4 linked regions of the Homo sapiens genome follow. The gene in region 1 interacts genetically with each later gene. Each region holds a gene or a part of one and is shown in the gene's direction. Other genes may lie near its edges.

Region 1 (3,500 bases):
CCAACATGGTGAAACCCCATCTCTACTAAAAATAAAAAAATTAACCAAGGTGTGCTGGCATGCACCTGTAGTCCCAGCTACTTGGGAGGCTGAGGCAGGAGAATCACTTGAACCTGGAAGGCAGGGGTTGCAGTGAGCTGAGATTGCACCACTGCACTCCAACCTGGGCAACAGAGTGAGACTCTGCCTCTAAATAAATAAATAAATAAAATGCTACACTCTTGGTGCGCTGACTCCACATAGGGCATAGATATCTAGAGAGCCTGTATCGCGAATGTGAGCACTGCTTAGAAACCTTACAGGTTATGTCATCCTCGTAGAGAACATTTGAGCTCGGTTTGGTGTCACTGTCTTTGTCCCTGACTCACTGGTTGTAGAAGACAATGTAATACAGAGATATCAGTGATAAATTGAAAATAACTCTAGCTAAATGGCTAAGATTAATCATTTACTTCCCCCAACACTTTTGGTTAATGTACATTTAACCAAAAGTTAAGTGTGTTGGTAAACCTATAAGAGAGAGTCTCAGGAGTGTCTAAAGCCGCAAGGGAAAGAGAGCACCTCCCTTCACTTTAGCCTTGAAAAGCCCTGAGGAGGAGGTAAGATTTTTTAAGGGTTACTTGAATGACAGAATGAAAGGCAGGCAAACTAGATTGAGAGCATGTTCTGGGAATACGACATTGCTTGTGGCAGTGTTCGCTGGGTCAGAGTGGTATTTATTCCACATGCCTCTAAGAGCCTTCTCTGAGACAGTCAAAAGGATGCCTTCTGCCTCTTCATACACGGAACTTAGACTAGAGTGGGGAGGACCTAGATGGTCTAATTGGAAAGAGGGTGTTCAGCTTAACGCAGATGGAGAGAAGGGATAGGCTGAGGAATAGGAACCCGTTCAGACAGATGCCAAGGCAGAGCCAGCATGGTGCTCAGCTCCACTCTGTGGAGGTTGTGCCTCCTGAGTTTATGCAACTTTATAATTAGACTTGATTCGTCATAGAGAAGGGAACCTGGTGACCTTCAGGCAGGAAATTATGTGAACAGATGTTTGACAGTGGCAGTGAACAGTACATGGGAAAGAGTAAGAGGGAGGGAGGGAAAGGAGACACAGCAAAGTAGGAAGTGGGTGGAGGTGTGAGCAAGGTCTGCAGTAACAGTAAAGGATAACACCTCAGAATGGCTGCAGATTTCATGTGTATGATGAGAGGCTGTGATGTGTTGAAGATGAACCCAGACTTTCTTATTTGGAAGGTTAGGATAGAATGACACTGTCTGGAGTCATGGAAAACCCAGTCACTGAGCAGTCTGTTCCATGTTTAGTTTAGACGCAGGTGGAGGAGGATTAGCATGAGATGAATGACAAAGCAGCAGGTGGATGCTCAGACCTTGTGACCTTTCAAGGCTCCTGCGCAGTTAGGATGAAGTGATTCTATGGCAAATTGAGTACAAAAGTTCAGGAAGGGCCAGACGCGGCGGCCCATGCCTGTAATCCCAGCACTTCGGGAGGCTGAGGCAGGTGGATCACCTGAAGTTAGTAGTTCAAGACCAGCCTGACCAATATGGTGAAACCCCATCTCTATTAAAAATGCAAAAATTAGTTGGGCATGGTGGCGGGCGCTGGTAGTCACTTGAGAGTCACTTGAACCTGGGAGGCACAGGTTGCCGTGAGCCAAGCTTGTGCCACTGCACTCAGCGTGGGCGACAGAGCAAGACTCCATCTCCAAAAAGAAAAGGTCAGGAAGGGACAGGTCGTCTACATGTGTCACAGAGGCGAATAAACTTACCCCGAGGAGCCTGGCCTCTTGCTTCTCTGTTCAGTCTGTTTCCCTGCCCCGCTTTTGGTTACTGGTGAGCTGCATCATTCAGTCCTCTGACCCTCACTCCCCGCAGACTCCTGTCTCCCGTCTGTCCATCCTAGGCCTTCTGTTACTTTCTTCGTGCCCTTGATGCCTTGCATTCCATGTATTCACCTGTAAGTCCATGAACAGATCACCCTAGCCAGTATCTATACACAAACCTGTGTCTCACCTGTGCTCTGGCCCGATGGGCTTCCCACCTGCTGCTGACCACTGTTGTTCCTCCAGCCAGATGAGCTGCTCCCTGGTAATGTCCTGGTTATTGACTCATGACACAACCAAATCTTTGTTTCCTAAAGATGATGATCATGGGAGGTCCTGTCCTTTCAAATATGCGTGTGAGTTGATCAGAGCAGGGGCTCTGGGTACATCTCTCAGTGTCCTAAACATCATGTTTCAGTCATCCCTTTGCAGCTCTGAATGCTCTGAGCTTTGTCAAGCCTCACTGACTAATACATTTCATTAGGTTCATTTCAAATGACATGCATTTGTATACATTTTACCAGGTTGGTTGTATGAATTTATTTAAAAATTAAAGGAGACCTTAGTATAATAAACATTCTATATGATTATAAAGTCAGGAATTAGATCTTGACCACATCTCTCCAGAACTCACACTGCAGCTCACCCTGTAACTCAGTGAGCGCTTGATAACAGTGATGATAGTGGAGATGAAGATATATATTTTGCTCTTCCTAGGTTGAATACTGTCTTTCCAACTCCTCTGAGTTGTAGGGATGAGGCAGCTTTTTCTCCTCTGTGTTTATATTAGCACCGTGCACACAGTAGGAACCCATGAAACAGTAATTTAGTTGATGTGTCCAGGGTCTGCCAAGCTGCTGTATTTATCCACTTTATTACATATATTGACAATTTACCACCAGTTCTATGAAAATGAAATATATCTGTTCATATGGCTTTTTACTTTCCTTAGAATAATTTGAAATTTGAAGTTAATAGAACACAGTTTTGCATTCATTCAGCAAGTATTTATTGAATGTCTACTCTGTCAAGTGCTAGGGATCCACAGAAAGAATCAGACATGGTTTCTGTTTCCCAGGAGCACGTGGTCAGCTAGCACAGGGAATAAACTTACCAGTATGTAAATATTCACAAGGTCATAGAATGGATGAGTGAGTTGAGAGACATTCAACGTTCTATGGCACATCACATAGAAGAAGCAACTGGGCCGGGCGCGGTGGCTCATGCCTGTAATCCCAGCACTTTGGGAGGCCGGGGTGGGTGGATCACCTGAGGTCAGGAGTTTGAGACCAGCCTGACCAACATGGTGAAACCCTGTCTCTACTAAAAATGCAAAAATTAGCTGGGTGTGGTGATGGATGCCTGTAATCCCGGCTACTCGGGAGGCTGAGACAGGAGAATCACTTGAACCCAGGAGGTGGAAGCTGCAGTAAGCTGAGATTGCACCATTGTACTGCAGCCTGGGCAACGAGCAAAACTCTGTCTCAAAAAAACAAAAAAAGAGCAGCAGCAACTGACTGGTTGGATCAGGAAAGACTCTGAGAAAGGACTCCTGACCTGGCTCTTCCAGAATGAGGATGGATTTTCCATATGAAGGAGCCGGGGGCAGGACCTTCTGGGTAGAGCGTGAAAAGAACACAGTATGTGTGGAGAGCGGGAAATTGTGTT
Region 2 (3,500 bases), on another chromosome or scaffold:
TTTAAACATTGCACGCAAAACGCTTGTGGGCTTCATGCATTCATTCCGTGGCTATTTATTAAGTCCTTACTCTGTGCCAGACAGTGTTCAGAGCCTTAGGAAACATGCTGAGATTAAGGAAGACAAAGTGCCTGTCCTCAAGAGCTTCCATTTGATGGGGGAGGGAAGCCAACAAATGCATAAACAAGAGCGTTTTAGTTGGTGATGAGTAATTAGGAGAAAATGAAGCAGAGCAAAATATGTTGAGAGGGCCAGGTTGACACAGGAGGAACAAAGAAGAAAGGGGTTGTGGCTGAAGTAGAGTGGGTGGTGAGGGAGGGAAGTCGTCTCAGAGGAGGTGGAATTTAAGTTAGTGAGAAGGAGGCACCCACGTAATGATGAGGGGAGGAGCATTCTAAGCAGAAGGAACAGCAAGTGCAAAGGCCCTGAGGTGGGCATGTATCTGGCATGTGCAAGGAACAACAAGGAAGCCAGTGTGCCTGGAACAGAGGGAGGAAGGGAAGAGCGTGGAGGGTCAGACAGGCCAGATGGGTAGGATCACATCAGGTCTTCAGGTTATTGAGGGGAGTTCAGAATCTTAGCATCATGAGACCTTAGGCTGTTCAAATAAAAGAAGAGTGAAATGGGAGCTTCAGAAGGAACTTCAAAGTGCTACAGTCCTAAGCATCCTTGGCAAATATCCCCAGTTACCTCTTAAAAGCAGGTGATAGTCACCAGCTCCTGACTGCCCATTCTGTTTCTGGGAAGTCATAAAACGTTTTAAAAAATCATTCTATTATTGACTAGCATCCCTGCACTGGCTGCTAAGCCCCACCCCAATCTGGATCCTAATGTAAGAACCTGTGACCCAGTCCTCCCCACCCCAGAATGTTCTCTCCTACTTTGTTGAGTGGAACCTTCTGCAGTTTCGGCAGGCGCCTCAGCAACCCAGCTGTATTAGTTAGGAAATCGATTTGGCTGCTTGAAGTCGTCCAAATGTCGGTTGGGGGTCCAGGGTTGGGTGGATGCAGCATGCCATGAGCTCATGTAGGGTCCCAGGCTCCTTCTGTCTTGTTGCTCTGCCACCTCTTCCATATCACCTTTCCTGCATGGCCTAAGGAGGTGCACCCCCACATACCTGCCAGAGGATGGGGGAGGGGAAGGGGTGGGCACAGTCCTCAAGGTCACTTCCACCCACATGACTTTCCATAGAACTTGGCTACACCTATATGCAGGGGAGGCCAAGAAATGTGGTCTTCAATCTGGGCAGCCATGTGCCCAGCTAAAAATCGAGGGTTCTGTTACTAGACAGCTGCCTGGCATCTCTGCCACACTGGTTTTCTTGGGAGAAGATTCCAAATCCATCCTCTGGGATAAAAAGCAACGGAGGCAGAAACGCTGGTGGGAGCCAGCTTTGGGGTAAGGCAGGATGTGACTGCAGCTGCGGGGTGTCAGCCTGGACCTGGGGTTACATGGGGGGAGCCAAGGCCAGCCCTTGGGGACTGGAGGCTGGGTCTGCTATGACTCTGGAGAAGACAGGAAGTTAGGGGTTTTTGTGGAGTCCAGAGGCAGGTCTGTGTTTTATCATCTCTGTCCCTAGAGTTCAGGGGGCTCTTGATATCAGAGGCCACAGAGAGAGAGAGAAACTCGACTTTAGGAACACAGGGACCAGGGCATGTCCAGGGATTTTGACAGCAGGAACTAATGGGATAGTCTTTTCAGCAGCAACTATTTTCACTCCTGTGTCCTCCATACAAGAGCCATGGTCCCAGGAGAAAGTCTGATTGGCCAAGGCTGGTTTATGTGCCCACCTCCTAACCCCTAACTTAGCCAGGATAGGGCAGAGATCCTTGATTGACAGTCCAGTCAAGCCACATGCCACGTTCCCCAAAAATGGGAGGCAGATGCCGGTAGAGCCGTCACCCACTGCTGTAGGGCTGACTTATTCTGCATCCCTGTGCCTCAGATGTGCTTGTTGGAAATGGGGACCTACATCTTATGGATCCAGCTCCTCTACCTGCTTTAAGGACACATTAGTAATACAAGGGGCTCAAATCGTCTTACATCAATCAATGGCAATTGGTTGCCGAAATGTTGTTTATTTTGCCTTCTTATCAGGTTATTTCTGCTCAAAAGAGACCTTTACCAATCCCTCAGGGGATATAACAAAAAAAATTCAAAAATTCCTGTTTTATCCCAGTTTCTCAGGAATCGATTCATTCAACTTTCAGCAAATATTTTCAAGTGCCGGGCACTGTAGTAGGCTCTGGGGACAGACCCATGACCGGGAGAGACCCTGTCTCTGGACTTAGAAGGAAGTTACATTTTAATGTATAGGAGAGAGATAGACTACAAAACTCAAAAATGCACAAATAAGATAATTCAGAGTTTTTATATCATGAAGAAAATAAGGCAGGTTAACCTACCAGGGGGTGAACAGCAGATTTGGGAAATGGATAGTTTCTTTAGCTAGGGTGCAAACAGCTATGGGTGCATTTGTGTTACAAGTGTATCAGGAATTTTCAACAAGCACGGTGATATTTTTGTGTATCGGTTTCACTCACTGCCCTGTTTCCAGGGCCTAGAACAGTGCCTGGCACTGTCATCTTTAATCATATCTCTGGCTGAATGAATGATGCTCAAGGAAGGCTGCTCTGAGCTGAGACTGGAATTACAAGAAAAAGTCAATGGTTTCTAGAGCTGGAAGAAATGTTCAAGCAGAAGAAACAGTTTCAAGAGCTGGAAGAAATGTTCTAGGTGGAGGGAACAGCAAGAGCAAAGGCCCGGAGGTGGAAACAAGTTAGGAGTTTTGAAGGGAGAGACAGGAGGCCTATGTGGCCAAGGCGTGATGAGCAAATGGGACTGGAGGGGTTGGTGTGGGGGAGGGCAGCCATGGTGAGAAGATGGGATGTTAGGCTGAGCATGATGATGGTCTCCTTCTGAGCAGATGTATTAGTCCATTCTCACATTGCTATGAAGAAATACTGGGTAATTTATAAAGAAAAGAGGTTTAATTGGCTCACAGTTCTGCACTCTGTACAGGAAGAATGATGCTGTTGTCTGCTTAGCTTCCAGGGAGGCCTCAGGAAACTTACGATCATGGCGGAAGGCGAAGGGCAGCCAGCACATCTTCCATGGCGGGAGCAGGGGGTGGTGCTGCACACTTTTAAATCACCAGATTTCATGAGAACGAACTCACCATCTCAAGGACACTACCAAAAGGGATGGTGTTAAACCATTCATGAGAAGCTGCCCCCATGATCCAATCACCTCCCATCAGGCCCCACCTCCAACACGGAATTACAATTGAACATGAGATTTTGGTGGGGACACAGATCCAAACCATATCAGTGGAGAGTGACAGATTTTTGCGTTTAGGAAGGTCATTGTAGATGCAATGGTGACAAGGGGCTATAGGAGGCCAGGGAAGACCCAGGGAGACCAGGGAGGAGCTGCTAGGGGGTCCAGGTGAGAGAAGGTGGACATTTGTAATAAGGCAGGAGGCAGGAAGGGTCATGGTA
Region 3 (3,056 bases), on another chromosome or scaffold:
GAAATAAATGCTAAGTCTTCTGCTTAAGGATAAGATCTGGTTCCTGTTGGTTGGCAGTGGCCACTGTTCTTGCCCATTTCACATACTTTAATCCTATTTGCAAGGTAACATCTTGGGACAGTTTCTAAGTAAAAAGAGTAAAGAAACCCAAATTTTTACTCCTAACTGGCCCATTTTGTAATCTTGGTCAAGTTAGTTAACCTCTCTCTACTTCAATTCCTCCTTCAGGAAATGGTGTGAGTAATATCAACCTTCTCCCCTTATCTAAGAAGTAATTTGAGGCCAGCTAATTAACTCTACCATATGTGATGTAATGATGGGGAAAAGAGCTATTAAAATGTGAAATATCATTACCATGGTCCAAGTCAGAGATCACTGTTGCACAAGCTACCCTCTAGTTAGGCCTTTTGAAGACCACTTTTTAACTCTTCTAAGCTGTATCTCGCTAGATGGGTGGATTGCCACCACTTATCATTTGTTAGTCTGATTTTAAACTCTAACCCACCCAAAAGTAGAACACATTCTCATTTTCATTGGATATATTTGCCTTTGAGGATTTCAGACTATTCCTTAAGGTAACCAAGGATACCTGAGGTGTAGCAAAATGACACCTGGGAATCACAGCACCTGGAAATGACTGCCTTATTGCACTTATTCAAAACCTCACCTGCAAAGGTACTAGTTAATGAGGCGGCTTCCACAGGAGCCCAATCCATAAGTAGGCAGCAGGTGGGGTACAGAAGAAAAATATGATTGACCCTCCCATTGCAAAGTGCTTTCCCTTAGAAAGTGTATGTCTCACATCTGTAAAGTTGGATATTTTATCCCCATCTTATAAAGGAAGAAATTGAGGCTCAGAGAGATTTAGTTGTTGGTCCAAAATCACGTCACCAGTAAATACATGCCAGAGCCAGGATTAGATTCCAGGACTTCTAGGATTTTACCATGTGAAAATGATAATGGACATCAGTGTATGGAAGAAGGAAGGTTAACATTATGCCCAAAATGTTCCATTCGAATTTCACATAGAATGAGAAACGTTTTTGATTTGCCATTCTAAAGATGGCCAGAATTATTGGGAAAACCATTGCCACTGCCCTTTTCCTCTCCTTATTGCTTTATAAATCAGTATCAAAGGTACTATATAAGAACCCTCAAGTTTCAAACAAAGTAGACCCTGGACATTAATGGACTGAGTATGCACAAGTATCACTGACAGCCTCTGACACGTTACAGAGGCAAGAGCTTGAATCACATGCACTGAGGTTGCTGTGTGGGACTGAATCTTTTAGCTAGTGAGGGAGGCTCACCTGGCACCCAGAATTCAAATCTATCAATGTGGTTTCTTCGTTCTCCACTCATGACCATATACCAATTCTGTGGAAGAAAAATTACACTCTAGAATATCACAAAATTTGAGCATTTCCAAGGTCATGAGACATATTTCTTACAAATATCAAGGATTCACAGTAATTGGATTTCCCTGCTTTCATTTCCCCTTAGTGGCCAGAAGCTCCAGGGAACTGTTGTTGCTCACAGTAGCAGCTAACTCATCTCAGATTCCTAATACATCTGTCCTTCTACTTGGCCTCTGACCAGCTGTTGCTTTAAAAAAAAAGTCATCTCTCATTTTAATCATTGTTTTATATGTGTTTTGATGTTGTCAATTGTCTTAAATCCTTTTTGGAAGTAGGTAACTTAAATCCTAAGTAAATGTTGGAACTAGACTTCCTAGAAAGAATTATCTTAGTCCTGGGGCCCTCCATAATGTTAGAAGTACTAAAAAGAATTAAGTTCCATCCGGACTTGGCAAAGAAAAAAAATGGAATTAAGGACGATTTTTTTTAAAAAATGATAGTTTTAAAATGTATTTATCCAAATTCTGAAACTGACAGCAGCTAGGAATATGCTTTGAGTGACACCTACTGGTTGAGAACGTCACTTCCCAACTTCCAGAGAACCCAGACCAGTGTTTCTCAAAGCTTGGCTCTAAACCAAGCTTGTCCAACCCGCCTCCAGCTTTGAATGTGACCCAACACAAATTTGTAAACTTTCTTAAAAGATTATGAGATTTATGCATGGACCTTTTTTTTTTGAGCCCATCAGCTATCGTTAGTGTATTTTATGTGTAGCCCAAGACAATTCTAATGTAGCCCAAAGAAGCCAAAAGATTGGACACCCCTGCTAGGCCACCTTTTTCAGAATGGGTGCCTGATAAAAATACAGAGGACTTCCTGGGCCCCGTGCTGCTGAAACCTCCGGGCCTGCTCCTCCCGGGGAATCTGTATTTTTCACCACCACCCTGGTGATTCCAAGGTCTACTCGAGTTGGAGACCCATTTATTCAAGGGCTGTCAAGTGAGCTGTCTATACAGGACTATCAGGCCCGAGAACACCCCCGGAAGTTAGCAGGGCCAAGGCGAAGGGATTAGGCCTGGGCTTCGCGTTGGCCTCCCCGGTCCACGGACGAGGTTCGGGGCGTGGGGGCTAAGCGGGGCGGAGGGAACCCCCAAATCCCCGGGGGCGCGGCCGCTGCCCTCTCGGCAGTGAGGGTGGGGGTGGGGGTGGGGGCGGCGGTGGCTCCGGCCCCTGAGAGCAATCGCCCCAGCTGCCTGCCCCTGTCCCCGGCGTAGAGAGGGCACGGGGACGTCCTGCGTGCGCCACTGCTAACGCCTGTGCTTCCCGTCCACAGACGAACCCGCCCCCTGGAGTTCTCCCGCTGCCGCCGCCCCAGGTCTGCCGGAAGTAGGCGTCTCCCTGGACGACGGCCTCGCTCCATTCTCTCCATCACATCCAGCCCCACCCTCCGACCCTTCCCACCAGATAAGCCCAGGCCCAACTTGGGATATCAAACGGGAACACGACGTTAGGAAACCAAAGGAGCTTTCAGCCTGCGGCCAGAAGAAGCAGCGCCTCGGGGAGCAGAGGGAGCGCTCGGCGAGTCCGCAGAGGGCCGCGCGGCCGAGGCTCGAGGAGGCGCCCGGCGGCCAGGGGCGGCCCGAGGCCGGCAGGCCCGCCTCGGAGGCCAGGGCGCCCGGGCTCGCGGCGGCAGACGCG
Region 4 (3,500 bases), on another chromosome or scaffold:
GCCAGGTGCCATGGCTCACACCTGTAACCCCAACACTTGGGGAGACCGAGGCTGGAGGATTGCTTGAGCCCTGGATTTTAAGACCAGCCTAGGCAACACGGTGAGACCCTGTGTCTACAAAAAATGAAAAAATTAGTTGGGCATGGTGGCACTCACCTGTGGTCCTAGCTACTTGGGGGTGCTGAGGTGGGAGGATTGCTTGAGCCTAGGAGTTTGAAGCTGGGGTGAGCCGTGATTGTGCCACTGCTCTCAAGCCTGGGCAAGAGTGAGACCCTGTCTCAAAAAAAAAAAATAAATAAAATAAAAAATGTAAAGGTGAGTGGCAGAATACCTTTGCCCCAGAAGAATTCCCTGTGGTCTGGGAAGGCCACCTGCAAACGAACAATTCCCCTTCAGTGACACGCACCCTCTGAGCGCTTTGGGGACTAGGCCCCTACCCCTTCAGCACTTTACCCATGCGGAATACATGCTTAGCTGTAGGGGCTGGGGGGCTGAGGGAGAGGGGCTGGGGGGCTGACGGAGAGGGGCTGGACCCAGCTCACCCAGTGTAGGAGGTAATACAGGTGATCTTGCCATTTTACAGATGGGGAAACTGAGGCCAGGGGAAGCATGTTCCACGGCCGAGCTGGGACTCCAAGCCAGACGGCAGAGACTAGTGGTGGGGGTTCCGTATTTGTCAACAGAACTGGGGAGATGGTGCTTCATGGGGTCTGATCCCAGGAGCTTTAAGGGACCCCTTATCCCCGCAGCCACTGTCCCCTCCTTTAAGTGCAGTTATTTCCCTTGGCGAGATGACAGGCATAAGTAATAAGAATTCTCGGGGGAGGTGGGCAGGAGGAGAGGGGCTGTGGGGACACCCAGATCTCTCAAGATTGAGTGCTGGCTGAATGTAGGAACTGATCTTTTTGGGGGGCTGGTGGGAGAAGTCCGAGTGAGGCCCTAGAGGGTCTCCCGGCTGACTTCCTTCTCAGAGGCCTGTGGCCCTTCCCTAACCTTCCTTCAGGAGGTGGGGTGTGCCCCAGGCTGTGGAAGGGCCAGGGGATCAGCACCCAGAGGCCTATGAAGGGGGAGTTCCTGGGGGTGTATAAGGCTCCCCAGGTTCCCGTGGGCCACCTTGTAGCCCAGGTCTAGCCAGCAGCCCAGTTCCCCCGCCAGCTCTCAACCCCCACCCGCCAGGCTGCCTTGACTCCAGGTCTCAAGAATGCAGAAGGCTGCTGGTAGGGGAAGTTAATTGGAAACAGGAAAACATGGCATTCCTTTCCAGGCCGCCTGGGCTTGGAAGGCAGAGGGGCTGCCATTTCCCTTCTCCCGCCCTGCAGGGGAGAGGGGTGGGGAGTATGGTTATCTTGCCCTGGTCATATTTGAGCTTTCTTCCCCGACCAGGCACCCTCACTTAGTAGAAACAAGAGCAGTCACCCGTGCCGTGTCCACGATGACAACTGCTGCCTGCTCCCCCAGCAGAAGAATTGCCCCCTCCTTACTCACCCCTTCATATCCCTCTGGTTTTTTGTCCCCTGTCTTGTCTGAGCTAGCTCCCTGGTAGGATGCACCTTATGCCACACTAGAGACGCATGGGGAGCGTTTGGTTGAGGGGTCCCCAGGGAGTGTCTCCTGGTTCCGTCCCTCGCATTCTCCTCTGCCTGGAGTACCACCAGTAGAGTTTTGTCCCAGTTGACTGAAGCTTTTGTGTCTCAGTGACACGCAAGTTTCCCCAGTGGAGAGGGAGAGTTTTCTAAGGCATTTCTAGTTTGGTGACAATTAGTTTTGTGTATGAGTGTATGTATTCATTGGGGGGAGGGGGAAAGGAGTGTTGGCACAAGCAGAGAAGGCCTTTGTTTCTTTAATTGTTCCCAATTAAACTTCCTGAGGGCCTACTGTGTGACAGGGCCCTGGGGATCAGTTAAGACCTTGGGACACAGTCCAGGAGGAGGAGAGAGAACGGTTGGATTAGCCGCTGTGGGGTTTCATTCATTCTGTCTGGGTGGTCTGAGACATCATCTTTTTCTCTGTCTGCCTTTTGTTCCTTTTGTTCTAAGTGATACACACACGGGGCAAATTCAGAACACTAAAGATGGTGTCTCTCCCTCTAACCTCTCCAGAATCCCTGGTCCCCTAGCTCTCTTCCCCAGAGACAGCACCTCCATTCTGATGTTCTGTGCATGTACTTTTATATATGGATGTTATGTGTTTAAAACTATTCAGGCCGGGCATGGTGGCTCACGCCTGTAATCCCAGCACTTTGGGAGGCTGAAGTGGGCAGATCACCTGCGGTCAGGAGTTCAAGACCAGCCTGGCCAACATGGTGAAACCCCATCTCTCCTAAAAATACAAAAATGAGCTGGGCATGGTGGTGCATGGCTGTAATCCCAGCTACTCAGGAGCCTGAGGCAGGGGAATTGCTTGAATGCAGGAGGCGGAGGTTGCGGTGAGCCGAGATTGCGGTAGCACTGCACTCCACTCCAGCCTGGGCGACACAGCGAGACTCTGTCTAAAACAAACAAACAGACAAACAAAAAACTATTCATCTTACACAGATGGTAGTCTGGTCTATGCATTGCTTTTTTTCCACGCTTCATCTCCCTGGGAGACCCTACCAATGTAGGTCTTCCTCTATCTTTTTCTTGGCTGCATGGTATTCCTCTGTGTGGGTGAATCCTCCTTTACTGTTATGGACGTGGAGGTGTTTCCAAAGGTTTCTGTGTGAAGCATGGGAAGGCATACGTCCGCACATGTTACAGGGAAATGAGTACGCCTGTGGGATAGACTCCTGGAAGTGGGATTGCTAGATCAAGGGCCAGTGATTTGTCTTTTGGTAGCTCTTACGGAGCACCTTTGATGTTGCACGTTGCATCTTTTTTTATTTTTTTGAGACAGAATCTTGCTGTGTCACCCAGGCTGGAGTGCAGTGGCGCCATCACTTTTCACTGCAGCATTATCCTTCCTGGGCTCAAGTGAGCCTCGCATCTCAGCCTCCCCAGTAGCTGGGACTACAGGTGCACGCCACCACGCCCAGGGAGTTTTAATATTTTTGGTAAAGACGAGGTCTCACTGTGTTGCCCAGGCTGGTCTTGAAATCCTGTTCAAGCACTCCTCCCGCCTTGGCCTCCCAATGTGCTGGGATTACAGGCGTGAGCCACCGTGCCCGGCCCCTCATGCTGCACCTTGAAGAAAGTTGTTCTCTTTCTCTCCTCTTCAATGTGATCCCACCTGTCGCCCAGGCAGCATCTCCAGGCTGCACGTGTCTTTGCCTCAGGTGACCTCCTTGTGTCTGATGACCTCCTTGCCTCTTCCTCCTGCTTATGGCCTGCGTCATGTGCTTGCCACCTGGTGTGGAGGTCAGGAGCGTGGGCTCTGGGCCCTGCCTGTTGGTTCTAATCCCAGTTCTGCTATTTGCTGGCTGAATGGCTGTGGACAGGGGACTTGCTTGGGGCCTTGGTTTTCCCCTCTATTAAGTGGGTTCATATCAGTACCTACTTGGTAAGGCTCTTGTGAGGGTCCCC

The links. Genes that interact genetically often act in the same process or in processes that back each other up.
Region 2: changes in SPPL3 (region 1) and SLC2A10 together harm fitness less than expected from each alone (positive genetic interaction), as found in Homo sapiens cells (one large-scale study listed by BioGRID).
Region 3: changes in SPPL3 (region 1) and MAGI2 together harm fitness less than expected from each alone (positive genetic interaction), as found in Homo sapiens cells (one large-scale study listed by BioGRID).
Region 4: changes in SPPL3 (region 1) and BICRA together harm fitness less than expected from each alone (positive genetic interaction), as found in Homo sapiens cells (one large-scale study listed by BioGRID).

What each region holds. Positions count from the first base shown.
Region 1 is NC_000012.12:120,771,859-120,775,358, reverse strand, and holds part of SPPL3 (signal peptide peptidase-like 3), read left to right. Parts: intron 1-3,500.
Region 2 is NC_000020.11:46,730,149-46,733,648, forward strand, and holds part of SLC2A10 (solute carrier family 2, facilitated glucose transporter member 10), read left to right. Parts: intron 1-3,500. UniProt on the Homo sapiens protein: Facilitative glucose transporter required for the development of the cardiovascular system.
Region 3 is NC_000007.14:78,019,612-78,022,667, reverse strand, and holds part of MAGI2 (membrane-associated guanylate kinase, WW and PDZ domain-containing protein 2), read left to right. Parts: intron 1-2,691; coding exon 2,692-3,056. UniProt on the Homo sapiens protein: Seems to act as a scaffold molecule at synaptic junctions by assembling neurotransmitter receptors and cell adhesion proteins. Plays a role in nerve growth factor (NGF)-induced recruitment of RAPGEF2 to late endosomes and neurite outgrowth.
Region 4 is NC_000019.10:47,612,134-47,615,633, forward strand, and holds part of BICRA (BRD4-interacting chromatin-remodeling complex-associated protein), read left to right. Parts: intron 1-3,500. UniProt on the Homo sapiens protein: Component of SWI/SNF chromatin remodeling subcomplex GBAF that carries out key enzymatic activities, changing chromatin structure by altering DNA-histone contacts within a nucleosome in an ATP-dependent manner.